Regions from separate parts of the Homo sapiens genome. Here region 2 is linked to region 1. Evidence: fine-mapped expression QTL. Tissue or cell type: whole blood. Region 1 holds a variant in brackets; the other region holds the start of a gene. All regions are shown on one strand. Distances are from middle to middle.

The links. PIP is the estimated chance that this variant, and not a neighbour inherited with it, causes the effect.
Region 2: it holds the start of TSPYL4, and the variant in region 1 is fine-mapped to the expression of TSPYL4 in whole blood (INTERVAL, PIP 0.99). The same link has a PIP of 0.9 or more in breast and unexposed skin.

The regions. Positions count from the first base shown.
Region 1 is chr6:116,214,161-116,222,352 of GRCh38, reverse strand. NT5DC1 (5'-nucleotidase domain containing 1) reads right to left here. Exons shown (of 12, transcript NM_152729.3): 7 at 1,125-1,299. It also overlaps a transcript of COL10A1 not described here. Among named protein-coding and RNA genes, the nearest start is that of TSPYL4, 36 kb to the left of the region's middle. The variant A/G (reference allele first, on the strand shown) is at 4,430.
Region 2 is chr6:116,248,970-116,257,161 of GRCh38, reverse strand. TSPYL4 (TSPY like 4) reads left to right here and starts at 3,087. Exons shown (of 1, transcript NM_021648.5): 1 at 3,087-7,198. The coding sequence starts at 3,154. The coding sequence ends at 4,398. It overlaps NT5DC1 (5'-nucleotidase domain containing 1), which reads right to left. Exons shown (of 12, transcript NM_152729.3): 12 at 7,665-8,192. It also overlaps a transcript of DSE not described here. RefSeq lists enhancers at 2,716-2,945, 3,356-3,515.

The DNA of each region.
Region 1 (8,192 bases):
TAGAAATTAAGATGAAGAAAGACTATGGTTATCTATGCTAATAAAAAAGGAATTAAAATCCAGATTGTTCATTTTAAAGCATGGGCCCACTACTAGGATAGCAAATGTCTCTATGAGAGGCACCTTCTAAGACATCCAGGACTTTAGCCTTAATTCACCCAAAAGATGCATTATTATGTATCAGCCTGTATATTATTCAGAAAGCAGGAATTCTACTCACAGATTCTAAGCATACCATAGAAGAAACTAAAGCCACACATGCTAAGGAACATGGAAATCATGATGCTAAAAGGGCTGGTGAAGGTAGGTTTTAAGGCTCAAACTTGCTCCATACTCATGGCAATTCGGTATTTGATGGAATTTGAGGAAACATTAGGGGAGACCTAATGACTCAGGTAGAATCTCGCTTTGACCATAGACATTTCCTGGTATTTCCCACAAGAATAAGTATTTACACACTGAAGTCTATCAACTATTCCTGTCTAATTCTCTACCTGTATTATGCTATTTAAATATCCCCTCATACCCACAAGGAATTACTGTACCATTTTTATGACGGCAAAATTGAAGCTTAAAGAGGTTATAAAACCTGCCCCAGGTAATACAGTAAACTGCAGAGCGGGGCTTGAAATCAAGTCTGTCTTACTTTAAAGTCTATGCAATTATACTGCCTTCATTCTCATGAATTCAATCCCATCATGGCTGTGTTAAACAGTAAAATACATGGCTCCGCACGGAAATGACTAAAGAGTGGCTGTACTCCAGGTATCTGTGGAGGAGTATAACCTACAACTCAGAGTCCCTCAATCATCGTCCAAAGATGAGAAACCAAATTCATGGAAAACTGAAGGATATACAGTTTACCACCTTCTAGAAAACCTAAAACCTGGACATTCGGTGAGCTATGAGCATACTGGTCCCCAATAACACTGCTTTGCTAAAATGTACTTGGTTGGGCTGCTGTCAGCAGAGATTGAGGTATGTCATGAGAAAAAAAATCAACTTGTCACTCAGCATTGTTTAAAATAATGATATGGTCATGGCTGACACTTTTAAAAAAGCCCTGGTCTAATTTGCTATCTGTATTTCATAAGACAATGAAAACTGAATGACTCATCACTCACCCAAGAATATATTCGCAGAGAAGTCTACAGTAATCACTGTGAGAACTGGTAATTAACAGAAGAATTTTCCCAGCATTCTTTAGCTGTCGAAGCCATTTTTTCACAGATTCAGGACAACTATGTAAATATCTGCCTGGATCTCTTTTTATTTCTGGAAAATATATTCCACAGTTTTCTGAAAAATAAAAATATCAATGAGGTTTTTCTTTTTAAACATTTTTTGACTAAATATATTCTCTAACAAGTTAATCTCTTTCAAATCTATAGATAAAACTAAAAGGATAAGAACAAGGTTTGACCGACCTAGCAATTATGCCAATACTACTTGCTTTTTAAGAATAGTTCTTTACTTGAAAACACAATATTGTTTGAAAATGTTAGTTGATAATATTCGCTGGCTATTTGACAAGAACTGATAAACTGTTAAAACAGGTAACACAAGAAACACAATATGATCAGCATTTTCAAATGCTGTAAGAGAAAACCTTACATTTGAAATATCAATTGTTACAAATACTCTTTTAATTATTCAATGAATATTTGCTGAATACAGACAAGAAACAAATCAACACTCAGATATTGCACCAGGATCACATCTTTTGCATAAATAGCCAAGAAGGGCGATGAGTTCCTCAGAGTCACAGTTTGCTATTTCAGATGGAATCTATACTAGGGGAGCCATTCTATAGCCTCTGAGAAGTGCTGAGATATCAAAATGGAAAAATCGGTGCAAAATAGGCCAGAACAGGCCAAAAGGCACTGTATTTGACAGGGAACAATGAATGACTCGCATCACTGAAGCGGGGTTGCTTGCTCTGCCCCTTTAGAGTGGCCACGGGGTCTGGCTGAGCTCCAGGGCAGATGGTGGCAGTGTTTCCAGATGTCCTGACCAGACTTACCCATAGTGCTTGACCCAATGCCTTTAAAGTTGTGGGTACTTAGCAGGCAATTGCAGATTTAGTTGAAATGTTACTAGATTCATAACACATACTGTTCTCAGAGCATGATAGAACTAGTAAGCAGATAAAAAGGATTCAAGATTTTACTTTCTCTAATTGTTAGGAAAAGGACACATGCATAGACAAAAAAAAAAAAAAAAAAAAAAAGGTTAAACAGCTTGTACTGAATGATAGAGTCTGCAATAGCTAGATATGGGATACATCCGTGACTCTCTCCAGTGTGAAACACTTGAAATACTTGGCAGTTATATTTCAAGAATATCAGGACATCAGGAAGAAGAGTTGTTTTTTTTTTTTTTTTTTTTTTTGAGACAGAGTCTCACTCTGTCACCAAGCTGGAGTGCAGTGGCATGATCTCTGGCTAACTGCAACCTCCGCCTCCCGGGTTCAAGTGATTCTCCTGCCTTAGCCTCCCTAGTAGCTGGGACTACAGGCGTGTGCCACCACGCCCAGCTAACTTCTGTATTTTTAGTAGAGACGGGGTTTCACCATGTTTGCCAGAATGGTCTAATGGTCTTGATCTCTTGACCTCACAATCCGCCCACTCTGCCTCCCAAAGTGCTGGGATTACAGGCATGAGCCACCATGCCTGGCCAGGAAGAAGAGTCTTTAAGTGAAACAAAAACGAACAAATAAAAACAAAAAACGGTAGCAAATATTGTGGTCTGCCTCCCCACATCCATCTCCCTCTTTGCTGGGGAGTGCTCTGATATTGTTTCGGGTTTCATCTTCCTCTGAGGGGGTCTGTGATGCTAGGAAGGGCAAGGGTCTCTATCAGTCTACACCTATCACAGTTATTCCCTCCTCCTGTCATTGAATTGTTTAGGAAGTGCTGGGGACCCAGGCATGGCAAATGAGACCTGAGGAGAACTTTGCTGCAGGATCCTGAAGTAATGTATACCACTGATAAAAATAAACCTATAAAGGGGGGAATATCCCCTCTTCTACTACTGGACTTTCCCATGATTATAAATTCTATGTAGAACTGCAGCGGTTATCATCAACACAAAGCACGAGTCTGATATACCAGAGATGGCGGAGTGGACATATGAAAGGAAACAAACCTGGGTCCCTGATGACATCACTGGGTTTCTGCTTTTGTTTCTGTTTTTGAGACAGGGTCTCGCTCTGTTGGCCAGACTGGAGTGCAGTGTGGCACGATCATGACTTACTGCAGCCTTAAACTCCTGGGCTCAAGTGATCCTCCCACCTCGGGCCTCTGAAAGTGCTGTGATTACAGGCATGAGCCACTGTGCCTGGCCACCACTGGATTTCTGATTAAGTCACTGACTAACTCTAACCACCACTGGAAGTACCATTCAACTTCTGGACAACCTCTGGTTGTGTAAAATAACTCAATTTAGTAATAGCTTAAACATTAAGGTTATTTATTATTTGCAACTTAAAGCATCATGATTCAGAAAATATATTGCATGAATATCATAACCAGACCAAAACTAACAAAAGAAATAATATTTTGCAATATGAGAATAATATTTAGAAGACCAAAAACAAAAACAAAGTTTTTGCTCTTTTTATATTTTGCCCTACAGGAACTTCTGTGTGTGAATCTCTAGGATCTATTTTTAACATGCCAGAGGCTATATAATAGCCCTTTAAAAAAATTAAAATATATTCTCTGTTTCCCAGGGAAGAGGAAGTACTAGTAAGAAAAGGTCAGTTTAAGAAACAGATGATAATAATAAATCTAAATGGCTAAGAATAGAGAAGTTTGATGAGTGGATGACTGCTAATTTCAGAGGCTGTGTCTCTCTCGTAACTTACTATACCTAAGGGAGTCAGATGTGAGATTATTTCACTTAGAAAAACAAAGCTTTTGTAGCAAGAAGAATTTTATGGGCTACGTAAGAAAAAAATTTATAGTGTGTAATGCTGAAAACATAGACTTGCTTTCAGAAAACTTGAGAAAAAATTATTTTTTCTTAGCTATATGTGCTTAGTGCCATCTAGTGATCAAAATATAAATTACCATTAAAAAGCTACTGTTAACATTTCCAAAGGAATAAAAATACAAGGCATACGCATTTAAATACAATATTTTAAATTTCTTACCTAGGTTAATTGCATTAGTATCTCAATTAATAATGTCTGATTCAAAAGAGTACCAATATAATAATTTAATCAGATAAAATTATTCTCTGAAGTCATAACAGAGATGTCCTTGTTTTGTTCATAAGCCAGACTGAAATGAACAAACTAAAAAAGACAAGCCCTGTACAAACACATACCCAATGGTAGATTATGAGTTGCTCTTACTACAAAAGATCACTGTCATGGAGAAAATATTTTTGCCCCCTTGTAACCTCCAATTATTAAAGGAATAGG[A/G]GACATAATTATACAAATAGAAACATCTTTTTATTGAAATAAGTCAAGGTATTAAATCAAATGAAGAGTTATGTTAAACATACTACAATGGATTATAATTGTCTATTAAATTATATCCCCCAAAGAAACTATAAACTTCTAAAGGCAAGAAATATATCTTTCTGCTTGGCATGGAGCAAGTATTCAACATATGAATACCTAAATTAGTGCAGGAGCAGACACAGGAACATTTATGTTTCCTTACATTCAAGGCAAGAGTATGATTAGTACCATATAGCCAAACTGAAGTGATAAAAATAATATTATTCATGTATGATTAAGGCAGCCTATGAAAAAAGTCATGTTTAATTATGATACTAATTAACACTGATTGAACAAAATGGAATTTAGACCTAAGATGGAAAGGAGTGGTATTGTTTGTTCTTAACTCACAAAGAAGCCTGTGTTTTCACTTAACCTCCAAAGGAATTCTATTTCACTGCCACTTTATGTAACTTATTTTCCTGGTTTTTCCACCACTCTTATATCCTTTGATGCTGATATTTTCTAGGTCCAGATGAGATTTAAAGGAAATTCTTTTAATAAGCTGATTCTAAGGAATAAAAGTTTAGCTCTCCTATGTTAAAAAAACTGGTTAATGTAGAGTGACAGAAATAATACCAAAGTGTTGCAACAGTCTGATATGCACATCAAATGGCCTGAATACACCAAACAGGATATAGGGACCTCTCGTGGTAAAAAAGTATAGTACAACCTGAATATTAAAAACAGTTTTTTTCAGTTTAACAGACAATTGTGCCACATCACTATTTCTATCATCACTGAATAAGCTTTTTCTTGTTAACTGTATCACTACTGTTTGCATGATTTTTGGCCAGAATTTTCAAAGCTGCTGTCCGAGGGGACTAGAGATGCCAGGATGCTAACACTTCCATGGTCAGCCTCCAAATAAGGTCTGTTGTTTCCATTGCAGAATATAATTTAGAAGAGATTTAAATATTTACAACCTTTACAAGTTATATAAGAGCACGCTAGTGAACAGCTAAAATGCCTAGCGATGAACTGTTTAAATGTACTTGCTGTAGAGATGATATAATTAATTTTCTTAAAAGAAGAAACTTCTTTGCTAAGAGACACTGAAATATTTGTTGGAGGATAAAAGAGATAAATTTATTTTGTTTATTTATAGGTGGCAAAAAATAAAATTAAAATGTATTAAAACAGATTTGCTGTTTATATAACAAAATATATGGTTTATATCTAATATTTTATAATTAAATAAATAAATCTAGAATATCTAGATTGTGTAAAGTGAAAATCTATATGCTAAACATAATACTTGGAAAGTCTCTCAAATAAAAGCTGGGAAATGAAGTACAGAATATGAGAGAAAAACATAATATACAAAATTTACATTTTAACAGTATCTGATTTCCAGATCTGTAATTTAATTTGCATATCCCGGCCCTACTCCAAAAATTCTGATTTAATTGTTTTGGGGTAGGGCCACAACATTGGTATTTTTTTTTTTAAAGCTTCCCAGGTAGTCCTAATGTGCTACCAGGATTAAGACTTGTTGACCTAAAATATAAAATATAAAATATAAAAACCAGAATTCTTACTATTATTTTCTGTGTATTTTGCCTGCTTCATTGGAAATCACAGGCTCTCAGAGGGCAGGGACTTTTGAATTTTATAGTATCTTTATTACCTAACATATAGCCTTGTACATGTTAGGTAATCAACAAATAATAACTGTTGCCAATTATCTTAAATGTCATTGTGGTTGATGATCTTTAAAGTGTTTACTCTTACACTATACCAATTAAGCATGGTACTCTAGATTTAGTTAAGTATTGTGAATACAGAATGATGGATTTCATTCCTCCTTTGAAAGGAGGATTCCTGGAAAAAGTGTATATTATGGAATTCTTTGAAAGAAAAATTATTCGAACAGTTTAAATGAGTATAGACAAGCCAAACAGACTCCTTTATCTCTCCAAAGCCATCAAACTGCCTGACTCTGTGCTGAATACAGTCTATAAATATGATTTTGGGTCGGCAGTATTTTAAAATTTTTGGATGTTAATGTCCTTGGACAGTATTACATATGTATTGTAATAGTTTACCCACAATCCCACCACGCCATATTGTCTGCACTTGGCCTAGTCAACTCCCCTGTTGCCATCAGTTTACAACCTATTTTTTCTCCTATGATATCAGAATGAATCATTCTAAAAGAACCTAGTTTCCTCTTTCCGACATGGTTACTGGACAGACAACGTAAATGTGGAGAGAGGTTTTTGAAGGTCTGCCTGGTTTTATTCAAAATATAACAAATCCTTTAATGAGGACGCTGACAGCTGGGAGGGTCAGCAGATGGATCTGATGACAGAATCACATACAATAATATCTGGACAGGCTGTAAAGTCGACAAGGTGACTCAGTGAGGTACAATTTCATAGGGAGAGATGAAATCTTACCAGGTTGAAAGCTCAGCCATACAGGCATAACATTGGAGGAGCTGTTGTTTGTCAGCAACTTCAAAATATAGAGCTTACAGTCAGCTTAGGCTCCACAGTATAGACAAAGTAAAATAAAAAGTTTGGAGACCATGTTTTGCAATTTATTTAGTTACTACTATGTACTTTTGATATCATGTTTCTGGAAAAATATTTCTGCTCCAGAAAGCTGGGTAAGAAGCATGTGTCCTCCTTTATAACCCTAGGCATCTTATCTTCATGTGCTCCGTATTATCCAATTAGGTGATTAGATTGTAGAGCTACATTAATATCAGTACAATGTTCAGAACCAGGAAAGCAATAATTTCCACTCTTTTAATCATTTTCAGACTAAACCTTGATAACTGGGTTCTATTCTGGATGACACTTTTCACAAGAAAGTGTGTCCAGAGAATGATGATGTTAACAATTCCTATGCCCCCCACCCTAGAGACCTCTGGTGGAGCCCCAGAGATACACACTGGCCAATCAGACATTTACAAACCTGTGAAACAGGCAGCTTCAAAGGACCGTTTAATCTTAGAGTTGCTTGAGTCTATGCCTCCATGGTGATGTCCAGCCAGATAACTCTTTTTTTTTTTATTATACTTTAAGTTTTAGGGTACATGTGCACAACACAGATAACTCTTTAGCCACAATGAACACCCATTTCCACAGTGTTTCTCCTCCTCTAAAATGTCTTTGCATTTTGAATATGATATTTCAAAAACAGACTTTTGGTAGAGTAGTGGGTCTCAAAATGAAGGTAAATTAGAATTATCCAGAATGCTTTCAAAAATACTCCTAGAGTTTCTGATTCAGTAGGTTTGGGGTGGGGCCTGAAGATGTGCATTTCTAACAATTTCTCAGGTCAACTGACAGTCCAAGAACCACACTTTGAGAATTACTTCAGTAGAATACCCCTATAAAACCAGACAGCTTTTTGAAAGCCTTTTTTCTCCTAGCAGAACATGGTCCTCACTATTTCGGCTAGAAGTGCAAAACCAGATTATGCATATTTAACGTTATCTGATAAAAATGCTCAAATCTGTGTCTGTGTTTAAAAACATTTTAAGTAAAAATCTTTTTAAGTAAAATAGAATTTATTTTTATTTCCTTTATAAGAAGGATATATATGAGAATAAAGACCTGATGAACTGTTTTATGTTTTTTCAGTGTACTATTTGACATTCACTTTCATTTCTGAGCCTTGAGAGCAATACTCTTGCATGTAAAGTAGAAAAAGCACACACTTTGGAGTC
Region 2 (8,192 bases), 35 kb before region 1:
AGAAAACACTAAATAATGAACCAGAAACTATATCATTCTGAAAAAGAAACTGCTGGTCAAAGATGTAACAATAGGGGATATTTCACAAATTTTCCAATCTTTATACTTTAGTAAAGTCATTCCTGTTTGACTGTATTAATTTATGTTTGAACTTCCATTAAATATCTTTTCTCCTTGCAAATAAAAATTACCTCATAGATTTTCATGGCATTTTCTATCGATATTTTCCCATAGAATCATAAGTCACTGATGTAGTTTTTTCTGCTTAGTAAGGTTTATTGCCAATTTCCAGTAGAATAGACTTTACTGTGTACAAAATATATATTATTCTAATGTGCAAAAAATGTAAAATATAACTCATAGCTACTATTATATATCCACCCACCTCAAAATGAAACACAAGGGTAGTCATACTATTCATTTTGGTAAAATTTTTTAAAATTTTTATTTAAATTTAAATTTTCACTTAAATAATCAAGATTCATTAAAACATTCTATGAGATAGTAACTGGACTATACTGTCGTAGATGCTACAGAAGCTGCTATGCAGTCATTATCTAGCTGGGATAAAACTGACCTTAATGAAACAACCAATAAAGTTAAAAAGTAGAGGATAAATAAGTACGGTCATTTGCTGCATAACATTTTGGTCAAAGATGAACTGCATATACAAGTGTGGGACCATACAATTGTAATACTCTATTTTTACTGTATCATTCTTATGTTTAGATACAAAAATGCTTACCATTATGTTACAAGTGCCTACAGTATTCAGTACAGCAACATGCTGTTCAGGTTTGTAGCCTAGGAGCAATATGATATACTATTTAGCTTAGGTGTATAGTAGGCTATTGCAGCTAGGTTTGATAGATGTACTGTATGATGTTTCCATAATGACAAAATCCCTGTCATTCAGTGAAACGTAACTGTACTAAGTTGGATAGTAAAAGTCATAAGGGCTATACAGAAATCAGAAGACTGTCAAAATGGCAAGTAATTAAGGAAGGAGGTAAAGTAATAAGGTGGGAGGAGGCAATCTGCCAATTAATACATATGTGACCATGGGCATGTTAACTGCTCTGTGCTCACTGGGTCTTTGTTTATAAAATCTAATGTATTTAAACTGCCTAGTACAATCTACATGAACTGAGTGTTAAAGAATGGCCAGGTGGTTATGAGTGAAAAATGATTCAGGTGACAGAACTAATACAGGCTAGAGATGGGAATGCTTTGAGTAGTAGAGATATAAATCTTTAAAAAACTTTGGCACACACAAAAAGAAAAAGAAGTTCACATGTAATTTTATACTTTTCTATAAATTTGTATAGTAGCAAACTTGTTTTTTCCTGCTGCATGGAAAAGTAACTTTCATTCAGTATTCCCTGCTTCTCTTCATCTTGACTCAGGTTATAATGGAAAAGTTACTCTTTCAACAGTGCAAAGGTTCTTTGGAAAAGAAACAGAGCAGTGTCAATAATTCAAAGTCACAAAGTCAATTATAGCACGCTGTTTATGTGTTTACAAAGACGATACCTCAATAGATTGATTTCACCCCACAAATAAAAAAAGAGCGTTTATTAAGACAAAGAGGAAAGAGGGAGAGAAAAATAATTGCTCTCTGCTGTGTGAATCTTGTTTGCATATTTCTTATGGGATAACTGATTAGCTGGCAGGCAGTAAAGAGGTCATTCTGGACACATTGTCCTTGGGTAGGCTGACTAGGCATACAAAAAATCCTGCAAGGCAGGCTGTTTCTCCGTATTGTCTGCCAGTGACCTTTCATCAGTACTTTATCTTAGTTGAACCAGAACTACACTCCTTCCCTCGCTAGAAGTCTCAGTATATATGATGTATTCCTCTAAGAGGAATCCTTTTTCTCTAAATCTGTACTTCTGAGCCTGTATTTGAAAGTGATCATAATCTGGGGGGCTTAAAATGGAGTTTCTTTTACAAAGAGTTATAATCATAACCGTTTATTTGAATATAAATTTGACATTAAACATAAATATGCAAAATTTAAATTTCCCTTTGGTCTTGCATTTTTCTAAGGATTAACACCATTATTCTCACACTCCAACAAACTAATATATTGTACTGATAATCACTATCAAATGAATTGTAAGAGCTAACTGACTCGAATAGACAATAACTAACCTTACTTTTAAAGTATTTTAAGAGACAGTAGCATAGATGCCTGCACATAGCTGATTATTGCTCCTGTGCTGCAGTGAATTACCACATGAACACATTTTGAAAAGATTTGTTAGCTTCATGTCCACAGGCATTATGAAGCAGGAACCACTTTTAGATTAAGATTGTAACCTGAGGAAAAGAACATATGCATCAGTTTAGAAATTAAAATCCCCTGAGATATTTCTTTCAGTAATGCTTAAAAGCCTAAATTTGTGCTCGTGTGCCAGTCACCTCTACGTAAGGAAAAACATTTTGCTACTCTTTGTTAAAAGTGAAGAGGAAATATTGTCCACTTGTTTTGTAGATGTTGGCCAAATTATATAAACTTTAAAATCTGTAAGACAAATTGAAATATTCCTTTATTATGTCTTGTTAGGATGAGAGAAGTTTGCCTTTCAGCTGCTCCTTAATTTTAAAAATAACAACACAGCAACACTTCTCTTTAAAATCAAACTCTGCTCATTTAAATTCTTTGGTAATAGCCATGAATCCACACCTTAAAAGAAGGAAGGCCTGTGAGTTCGTGAATCCACTTTCCTACTCAGGAGAAGCCCTATGAACTGACTTGAATAGACAGTAACTCACCTTAAAGTAAATATTTTCAGAAACAATAGGTTAGGTGCCTTAGAAATTCATTCAGAGGCTTAGAAATCCACATTAACACAGTTCTTACATGCTTGAGTCTGGTCTACATCCATTTACGTAAGTAAAACTCCCCTTCCAGACTGACGAAATTCTTTTTGTGACAAGAAGACAAAGGAATACGATGGATTGATAAGCGTAGTCAACCGCGCAGAGAGTTCTCGCGCGATGTTACGACGCTACCGCCCTGACATCACCAGTTGCCATGGTAGCACCGCCGAGAGTAAAGGAGGGGTGGTGCTAGACGTTTCGGGCAGAGCTCGGCCGCTGCGGAGGACAAGGAACTCTCCCTCTCCCACTAGTCTGACTTCTTCCAAAATGAGCGGCCTGGATGGGGGCAACAAGCTCCCTCTCGCCCAAACCGGCGGCCTGGCTGCTCCCGACCATGCCTCAGGAGATCCGGACCGAGACCAGTGCCAAGGGCTCCGTGAAGAAACCGAGGCGACACAGGTGATGGCGAACACAGGTGGGGGCAGCCTGGAGACCGTTGCGGAGGGGGGTGCATCCCAGGATCCTGTCGACTGTGGCCCCGCGCTCCGCGTCCCAGTTGCCGGGAGTCGCGGCGGTGCAGCGACCAAAGCCGGGCAGGAGGATGCTCCACCTTCTACGAAAGGTCTGGAAGCAGCCTCTGCCGCCGAGGCTGCTGACAGCAGCCAGAAAAATGGCTGTCAGCTTGGAGAGCCCCGTGGCCCTGCTGGGCAGAAGGCTCTAGAAGCCTGTGGCGCAGGGGGCTTGGGGTCTCAGATGATACCGGGGAAGAAGGCCAAGGAAGTGACGACTAAAAAACGCGCCATCTCGGCAGCAGTGGAAAAGGAGGGAGAAGCAGGGGCGGCGATGGAGGAAAAGAAGGTAGTGCAGAAGGAAAAAAAGGTGGCAGGAGGGGTGAAAGAGGAGACACGGCCCAGGGCCCCGAAGATCAATAACTGCATGGACTCACTGGAGGCCATCGATCAAGAGTTGTCAAACGTAAATGCCCAGGCTGACAGGGCCTTCCTTCAGCTTGAGCGCAAGTTTGGCCGCATGCGAAGGCTCCACATGCAGCGCAGAAGTTTCATTATCCAGAATATCCCAGGTTTCTGGGTTACTGCCTTTCGAAACCACCCCCAGCTGTCACCTATGATCAGTGGCCAAGATGAAGACATGCTGAGGTACATGATCAATTTGGAGGTGGAGGAGCTTAAACACCCCAGAGCAGGCTGCAAATTCAAGTTCATCTTTCAGGGCAACCCCTACTTCCGAAATGAGGGGCTTGTCAAGGAATATGAACGCAGATCCTCTGGCCGGGTGGTGTCTCTTTCCACTCCAATCCGCTGGCACCGAGGCCAAGACCCCCAGGCTCATATCCACAGAAACCGGGAAGGGAACACTATCCCTAGTTTCTTCAACTGGTTTTCAGACCACAGCCTTCTAGAATTCGACAGAATTGCAGAGATTATCAAAGGAGAACTGTGGCCCAATCCCCTACAATACTACCTGATGGGTGAAGGGCCCCGTAGAGGAATTCGAGGCCCACCAAGGCAGCCAGTGGAGAGCGCCAGATCCTTCAGGTTCCAGTCTGGCTAATCTCTGTCCTGTGAGAAGCTTCTGCACAAGTTTCCTTACCACCTCCTCTTGGACCTATGCTTGGCCAACAGCATGCAGTCTTCCATCTGCTTTCTCTTCATACTGTGGATTATCTTTTCCTTTGGTTCTAAATCTTCAGTAATCGGTTGCAAGATTGTTGGCTTACCTGCCTGTGCCATTCTTCCTCTGGGCCTTCATGCTTTTCTGCATTGTGTTAACATGTTTCAAGTGCATGGCCTTCTACGGCTTCTATGCCAAGCGTATGATACTATAGATATAGTGTACCATACTGCCTTTCTTTGCATGGCTTGGACCCTATCTGTGACCATGCTCTTCTCCCAATTTAAGTGGTTCTGTACCACAAAGAATCTTGATACATTTTCACAAATAACTGATTGGGCTTCATACTTTATGCTGGCTGTGTCCTGATACCCATGTACTTATGGTAAGCTATTTGGGTATTACCACTGCAAGACAAAACTGATATCTTAACCCGGCCATCAACCCAAATTGGACATTCCAGACTACCACCAACTGGATCCCAGCTGCCTTCCTGGGCTTGTGCCATCCACCCTACTGGTTATCTGATAGAACAAGCTGGTGGCTGATGGGTGACTGCTAGGCGTGACTGAGGTAATAGATGAAAAGTGTTCTATGTTATCACATTGGTTTTCCTGTACCTTTGGTTACTCTACGTCATGACCAGCTGCTGGTGAGTATGAAGCCTGTGCTATAGCCCACCCCTACTCACTCTCACCTTCTGGTTGAACTTTGCTTAGGCCACCATTGTCTGCCTCATCAGGAACTATCTGTAGACGTAGCTCCCAGGGAGCTCACAGCAACACCCCCTACCACCAGGATGGGCAGTAATATGTGACAGAGCCCAAAGCAAGGCTGGAACGCAGTCCCTTCCAGCTTAGTCTTTCTGACTCCTAGCCAACAAACCATCCTTAATGTGAGCAACTTCTTTAGGCATTTCCTCTTTTCCCCGCCTGCACCCACTCTGAACATGACAAAAGTTGCCAGAGTTGGGGCATTGAGGAAGAGATATTTCTGGAATGTGAGACTTGTTATGCCTCTGTCTCTTTCTCTCCCTCCTCCTCCCCTCTCCCTCCCCCTCTCCCTCCCATCCCTTTTCTTCCCTTTCACTCTGAAGCAGTTTTAGCTTATTAACAGAAAACAAAACTGGCAAAGCAGGCTTTTTGTTTAATTTGCTCTTTCCCTGATTGTGTTCAGAGAGAAAGGTTATGATTAAATGGGCTCCAGATCTCTTATTGCCCTTATTCCTCCACCCCACTTCTTTTAGCAAGGTCTGAAAGTTTCAAAGGGAGACCTATAGGTTAATTGTTTAGTTATAGGCAGTGTTAAATTAGGCAGATTTTGACATATTTATCTTTTTACCCCATCCATTCTACCAAAACCTGTGTATTTCTTGAGTTTTTAGTTTGAGAAGCTGGAAAGAGAGAGAAGGGCCTCACAGTGATGGGTTCAGGACGGGTCAAAGGCAAAGGCCTTTGTGATGTGAGCAAAGGCAACCAAAACTTAGCCTCACTCCACTTTTCTAAAGATGGAAATTCTTTTTTGGGCCTTGGACTGCTTCTAGGGTAGCATTTTGTAGGTCACTCTTCTCCTTTGTACTATTTTGTTTCTGCCCTGATGTCCCTTGGGTCTCCATCCTACTGCCTGGCTTTCTTGGCCCTCATTTCTCAGCTTCTGCATTTCCTTCCCTGCTCCTAACAAATGAAGAAGCAGGCTGCAGCCTGCATTGTGGAAGATCTCCAGCCTCCTTGTAGGGGATAAGGGGATGTGCAGCATCTGTGTGGATTTTCACGGACAAGTTCCAGTAGGTGGGACAGTGATGCCGTCAAGGCTTAGTTATGATCATGTGTGGTGATAAAGACCATCCACCATCACCCTTTTCCCCTTTGGTTTTGAAGGCCTTGCCCTAAGCTACCTGAGGGTTTAGGAGGTCTGAACACACACAGTGGAGAGGTTAATCTAGGTTGGGAAACTGAGTAAAAGTCCAGAGCAGGAATGAGCCTGCTGTGGCGTGGGTTTGGAAAGGCTCACAGGAAAGAACCTGCAGGATCAGGGGTGGGAGGGGAGGCCCCTGAGGTGCTCTCCAGGGAAGAGGGGCTGGGGTTTAAATAGCATGCTTGGAGGAAGATTTTCCTTCAATTTTTCCTAAGTCCTTGAATTCACCAGTAGATTTTTGTAAACAAAATGTAAGTCGATGTTTTCTCTCAATTATCCTAGGAGTGACCTTTATATGTGTGGAAGATTAATGGTATATGCTCCTTATGTCACTGTTTTTGAGTAAAATCCATTTCCTTTCTCTGTTTCAGCCTATGACAAAATTGATGTTTACAGGCCTGCTTTTTGCTTATAATTGACAACATGTGCAAAAATACCAAATTTGTGTCCTGTGCAGTATGAAGAATTCAGTGAATATTCATTAATGTATTAGCTTGTTTTGCTCTCTGTTCATATATGGCTCTATTCTTAGAAATATAATTTGAATGTGATCTTTCAATAGTCTGAATATTTTACAAATTATAGCTATGTCTTGTGAAAATAACCTCAAAAAGAAAAATACGACTCTGTTGTCTTACTTGATATTTCTTGCCCTAGTAATGTACTTGACATTTATGTTCCTAAGCAGTGTAAGTACCAGTAGAATTTCTCTGTCAAACTCAATGATCATTTAGTACTTTTGTCTTCTCCCATGTGCTTGAAGGAAAAATAAAGTGTCACTACCGTATTTCTTGTTTTCATCAAAAAATAAAAATAATTTAAAAAATTCTGTGTTGTCTAGGTTAATTTAAGGTTGGGAAATCATTAAAGTTATCAAATGATACCAGTAACTATCATCCTGAAAGTTTAAAAAAAAAAAAAAGGCAACAGCCACCAAACCTTCCAAGATTTTTCACCTGAAAAATGGTAAATGGGAGCCCAACTGCAACTGCATACTCATGAGCATTATTTTTTCTACATAACCAGTGCAGTTTTTGGTGGTAATTGAAGCACCATATAGTATCACTTAAAATACTGTTTTCAGTGGAAAACTTGTCTATGCAGCATCCTTGTTCATTACATTTATTATTAACTGTGCCTTCCGAGATCTAATAAGCTTAAGATAGACTTTTGGAAGAATTAATTATTGTGTATTCTGTCAGTGCTACTTAACATTCTTTTCTTACACCAATGTGTGGCTTTAAAAAGAATACCAAGAAAATATGAAATAAAATGTCTAGAGACAAATGATATCAGGTATCACAACTTTAATTACCGGTAATGATAGTTTTGCTGTATAGCAGCAATTACATGAAAGTTTATTGGATAAATACCTCTGCATTCTCTGCAGTAAGGAGGGCTTTGTGGATGCTACAAAATCTATGAAAATGAATTGCTAAGTATTTGTAGCCATCTAAGCAAAAATTTGACAAAAATGGCCCAAAATTTCTCATTTGAGTTAGAAACTTAATTAAACATACAGTTAAAATAGATGCTGACTCTTGGTGCAATTATTACTTGCAATTTCTTGCTGAGGTATTTTTTTCTAGGGCTAGAGAACTTTAAGTATTAGAGAGCTAGGTTTTCTTTTGCAAGCTCTACATCCATCTTAATCCTAAATTCCTCTAACAATGTTCATTTTACCTTTTCAGTTCAGTGATTGATTTCTGCATTGTCAGCCACCTGTTTCAAGCTTTATTATACCTTTTCTATGCCTGTTCTGGATGTAATCAGAAAATGTCATTTTTCCTACACTTGGTTTATTATCTGCTTTAGTCTAA